Linked DNA regions of Homo sapiens: region 2 is linked to region 1. A link means that fine-mapping ties the variant in region 1 to the expression of a gene that starts in the linked region. Tissue or cell type: whole blood. Region 1 holds a variant in brackets; the other region holds the start of a gene. All regions are shown on one strand. Distances are between the middles of the regions.

What was found. PIP is the estimated chance that this variant, and not a neighbour inherited with it, causes the effect.
Region 2: RGCC starts here. The variant in region 1 is fine-mapped to the expression of RGCC in whole blood (TOPMed, PIP 0.96).

Annotation. Positions count from the first base shown.
Region 1 is chr13:41,508,081-41,510,837 of GRCh38, forward strand. No RefSeq gene overlaps it. Among named protein-coding and RNA genes, the nearest start is that of RGCC, 52 kb to the left of the region's middle. The variant G/T (reference allele first, on the strand shown) is at 1,094.
Region 2 is chr13:41,456,010-41,458,766 of GRCh38, forward strand. It overlaps RGCC (regulator of cell cycle), which reads left to right and starts at 1,541. Exons shown (of 5, transcript NM_014059.3): 1 at 1,541-1,747; 2 at 2,276-2,461. The coding sequence starts at 1,699. RefSeq lists a silencer at 1,314-2,153 and enhancers at 1,727-2,404, 2,454-2,583.

The sequences.
Region 1 (2,757 bases):
GGAAGCTGCCAAGGCTTGGGCCTTGCACCCTCTGAAGCCACGGCCTGAGTTCTACATTGGCCCCTTTCAGCCACAGCTGGAGTGGCTGGGACCCAGGGCACCAAGTTTCTAGGCTGCACAGAGCACGGGAGCCCTGAGCCTGGCCCAGGAAACTGAATGCCTTTAACAGCACCTTTAATAGCACCTCTTGAATGCTTTGCTGCTTAGAAATTTCTGCCAGATACCCTAAATCATCTCTCTCAAGTTCAAAGTTCCACAAATCTCTAGGGCAGGGCAAAATGCCGCCACTCTCTTTGCTAAAACATAGCAAGAGTCATCTTTTCCCCAGTTCCCAACAAGTTCCTCATCTCCATCTGAGACCACCTCAGCCTGGACCTTATTGTCCGTATCACTAGCAGCACTTTTGTCAAAGCCATTCAAGTCTCTAGAAAGTTGGAGTTTCCCACATTTTTTTGTCCTCTTCTGAGCCCTCCAAATGGCTCCAACTTCTGCCTATTACCCAATTCCAAAGTCGCTTCCACATTTTTGGGTGTCTTTTCAACAACGCCCCACTCTGCTGGTACCAATTTACTGTATTAGTTCGTTTTCACGCTGCTGATAAAGACATACCCAAGACTGGACAATTTACAAAAGAAAAAGGTTTAATTGGACTTACAGCAAAGATTTTTAAAGTATCCTCAAAGAATACCAAGGAGAACTAAAACAGAAACCCTCACACATAGCTGGTAAGAGTATAAATTGGCACAATTTGCTTCAGAAATTATACCCTGAGTCTTAAGAATATTCATTTTGGCTGAGTGTGGAGGCTCACGCCTGTAATCCCACCACTTTGGGAGGCTGAGGCAGGAGTTCGAGACCAGCTTGGGCCATATGTCGAGGCTACTTGGTATTCTAGACCATGATCTGAGGTCAAGCCAGTGGACAGGAAAATCCTGAGGTCAACCTGACCTCAGGTTGAAGAACTAGCCCAACAGGACGGTTATAAGGGGAGGTTCGTTTATGATTTTGCTCCACGAGGATTGCTCATTCTACGTATCTATTATTTGTAAAAGATCAGCACATAATAATCCATCCACAAAGGCCGTTTACCTTT[G/T]TCTCTGCTAAGGGTTGATTTTCCATCTGATCCAAAATAAGCAGCCAAATGTACTACTGTATTAAAAGTAAAAACATCAGGAATCCAGATAAAGGTGAGTTTTAATGTTCTTTGCTTTTTATTTTGGCTTCTAAGGTGGAGTCAAAAGCTGTCTAGCAACCCCTAGCTGGGGTAAAATAATTCCTATGAATGAACTCAGGGTCCTCTGAGGACCAGGCAGGAGAGAAGGAAGAACCAAGAAGAAAGCAAGGGAGAGACAAATGAGGAAACAGAACAAGAGCTGAGAAACCAGACACAAAAGTTGTCTCTGATGTGAAATTAGACAAAATGCCATGACTATTGGCTTAGGGCACACCACTTAAAATGAACATCTTAATGAGTTTTATTCTATGTGTGTGCATTATTTCCGTGGGAAACATGGCAGGTGTTAGGCTAAGGTTTGGGTAGGTGATGGTTAGTCCGCTTGACATCTACAAGTTTAAGAAAGGCCCCTTTCCTTGGACTTTGAGAGGATTTTGAAAAGAAAAGCGATCACTGGAAGGTTTTAGGACCGCCAAGAAGGCAATTTTACAACATTCATTAGACATACAGTGTGAAACATCTCTGCTTTGTGTTTCTGGACAGTAGAGATGACATGGCCTTCAATGGCTGGGGTGACTATTCCCCTCCAAAATTAAAGACTTGGAACTTAATTAGGAAATTGAGCTTTCAGAAGAATTTGGCCGCCTTTTATTTGTTCTCAAAATCCACTAGTCAATTAAACAACTCATTTGAACTTCCACTTCTTGCCAAAGTAGACTAAGAGAGGCAGGAATTACCCTCCTGTGGGCCTGTCTTACAGGGTAAGAAAAACCAAACGGTTTTGCCTGCTCTGACACACACTCAACATGACTCCCCTGACACCAGATTCTCCAGTGGACACAGCTGGGAGGTGTCCTATAATTCAATTCTGGAGATGCTGTCAGATCCTGCAGGTTGAAGACTCAGTCCCACCGGACCACCCCCACTTCAGATGCCAAGTCCCAGGTGGTGACCTGAACTTTTGACCAATGGGCTATAAATTGGAGTTCCCATGACCGCCTCCTTGGGTTTGATTAGTTTGCCAGAGTGGCCCTCAGAACTCAGGAAAACACTTTACTTCTGTTTAGCCATTTATTATAAAGGACATTACCAAGGATACAGATGGACAGCCAGAGGGAGGAGATGCACAGGGCTAGGTATGGGAAGGGGCACGGAGCTTCCATACCCTCTCTGGATGCGCCACCCTCTGGGAACCTCCAGGTGTTCGGCCATCTGGAAGCTCATCTGCACCCTTGGCATTTTGTGTTTTTATGGAGGCCTTATTACATATACATGATTGATGATATCATTGGCCCTTGGTGATCAACTTGACCTTCAGCCCCTCTCTTCTCCCTGGAGGTTGGGGGAGGGGGTGGGGATGAAAGCTCCAACCCTCTAATCCTGCTTGGCCTTTCTGGTGACCATCCTCCACCCTGGAGCTATCTAGGGGAGCCCAAGAGGAGACAAAGTTGCCCAGAGAAAGAACTCTGGAAGTCTGCAGAGGGGTCTCGTGAGCATTATGGTGAGCACTGAAGAATATATGTGAGGAAACTAAGCCAAGGATGGGGAAAGACCCACCTGAAGGACTAGAGGGAGAGTCTTTC
Region 2 (2,757 bases), 52 kb before region 1:
GTGGGAAATAGATTGCGCACCATTAGAAGTGGGTTGGCCATCAGAAGGAAGCCTGGACAGGTCCCTTGTTTCTAAGGCGTGGCACAAGGTAACTGGTAAAGATACCTAGACCAGTTCCCATACATAGACACTTGGTGACAGCTGGTGCTAGAACCCCCACAGTGGCTGAGGGCATGCAGCAGCAATACTAGTAGCAAAGGGACAGATAGCTAAGGAAGGATCCCGCTCCACTCACCCAGGGAAATCAACTCCTGAAGTTCTGTTCGACCCCACATCAGAGGATCCATTGCAGGAGATGGCACCAGAGATCCCAGTGGTGTCCTCCCCTTAACAGGGAAAGAGGCTCCCCACTCTTGAGCCCACAGTGCTTGTGCCTCCACAAGACAAGCATATCCCTAGGCCACCCAGAGTAGACAAGAGAGGAGGACTATTCATATGATTAGTGGTCATTAACATATACTCCTTTGTGAGGTGTATGTTTCAATGTTTTGCTCATTTTTAATTTTTACCAGGTTGTCTATTTGTGATTACTTTGTAGATGGGTCTTTCTATATTCTGAAAACAAATCCTGGCTGGGTGCGGTGGCTCACGCCTGTAATCCCAGCACTTTGGGAGGCTGAGGTGGGCAGATCACCTGAGGTCGGGAGTTCGAGACCAGCCTGGCCAACATGGACAAACCCCGTCTCTGCTAAAAATACAAAAACTAGCTGGGAGTGGAGGCTGAATGTTTCACTCCGTTACATGTTAATTGCTCTACATTTAATTAGCCGTCTGTGGTGAGAGGCGAGAGGCTAGCGCCTAGCTCAGCGCACAGTCCAGGGCGTTCGCCCCCGCAGGCCGCGGGGCAGGGTGGCTCGTTACTCCGTGGACACTGCAAGGCGCCCTGTTCGCGCTGCGTCGACGCAGTAGTTTCTTCCCATAATAAACCCCTTCTAGATAAAGTCAGGCTGGCGGGAGCGCCCTGGACCGTAGTTCAGGCCCCCGCGCTCCGCGGTGGGAACAGTTCAGGACTCCCCCAACTCCTGCCCCTCTCGCCCCGACCCTCTCCACTCCGCCCGCCCACCATCTCGGAAGTCCCCTTGGGACAATGCGTAGGGGACCTCCGCGTCCCCGACACCCGACTGGGACACGGCCGCGGGCTCCTTCGTCCCTCACCGCCAGCCAGGGAGGCTCTGCATGCCCACGTCCACTTCACAGCCGAGGAAGCTGCGGCTCGCGGAGGTGCCTGGCACGCGGCGGGAAGCAGCAGAGCTCGCGCCCAGCAGTCAGCTCTGGTGACGCCGAGGACACCGCGTGGGCCGGGTTGTCAGGGCGCGGGGGCGAGAGGCGGGTAAATATTTGGGGCTGTAACCGGGGCTTCGGCGACTCCTCGTCACCGCGGTTCCAGGGCGGGCGCGTGGCGAGGGCGGTGCCTGGGGGCAGGGGCCTCCTCGGAGGGCGGCGGGGACAGACCCGTCGCCCCGGCTCCGCAGCCCCGCCCCGGCCCCGCCTCCGCTCCGGCCGCCGAAGGCTATAAGATCTAGGAACCCGAGCCGGTGGTAGGGCGGGCGCGGACCGTGCTGGGAGCGGCGCGGCTGGAGCGCAGCGCCGAAGGGACTGGCAGGGCTGAAGTGTGCGGGACAGCAAGCCCCCGAATAGCCCCGGCTGCCACCTCGCAGGACCCAAGGCCACGCGCGCCGGGCCCAGCTGAGCCGCCTCATGAAGCCGCCCGCGGCGCAGGGCAGCCCCGCGGCCGCCGCGGCCGCAGGTGAGTGCGGGGTCCGGGGTCCCCTTAAAGTCTCGGCTCTGCAGATGGCGGGTGAGAAAGGAGGGGCCCCGTGTCGTCCCTTCACACCCCCCACCCTTCCATCCTCCCCGGCGGGAACCTGTCCCCGGTCTTCCCGCGCGGGCGGCTGCAGCCTCCTTTCCGGCCCGGGCTGGCCCCCATGTCCCACCTTCCCTCCACCACCAGCTCCGCGCGCGCCCGGGGTTGGGGGGAGCGGCGGGGACAGGTAACCGGCAGCGCCTGGGGAGGAATCTGGCCGCGCCAAGTCGCTGGGTGACCCTGGGCCTGGCGAAGGCTCAGTTTTCTTGTCTGTAAAACGGACTTGGTAATAGAACGCACTTCGGGGGTGGTGGAGAAGATTACAAGGTAACAGCGACTGCGTGGCTGTCACTTGGCAGAGGCGCCAAGTGTCAGTTATCTTCGGGAACCGTGGCGGCCCCTCCTGGCCCTGGGAGGTGGTCCCGCTGCCCCCCTGACTTCCGTGCACTGAGCCCCTGGCCCTGCCCGCAGCCCCGGCCCTGGACTCGGCGGCCGCGGAGGACCTGTCGGACGCGCTGTGCGAGTTTGACGCGGTGCTGGCCGACTTCGCGTCGCCCTTCCACGAGCGCCACTTCCACTACGAGGAGCACCTGGAGCGCATGAAGCGGCGCAGCAGCGCCAGTGTCAGCGACAGCAGCGGCTTCAGCGACTCGGAGAGTAAGTGCGGCCCCCGCTAGGATGGCGCCGGGATCTCCCAGCTCCCAGGACCTGCCCCGCGAAGGCTGCGGCCTCAGTTTTCTTATCAGTAAACTGAGGAATGGTTTCCTGAAGCTCAACGCAGTAGGCCGAGTGGTGGCGGGGCCCCTGACGATAATCACGGGAAAGGTCGCTGGAGGGCAGGTTGGTTCACTTGCCGCCCACGGGTGTGTCACCAGGCAGGCGAGTTTAAGCAGCTTGTCCCGACTCAGCCAGACAGGACTCCCTGGACCTGCACCAGGCCTTTCCGCAGTTTC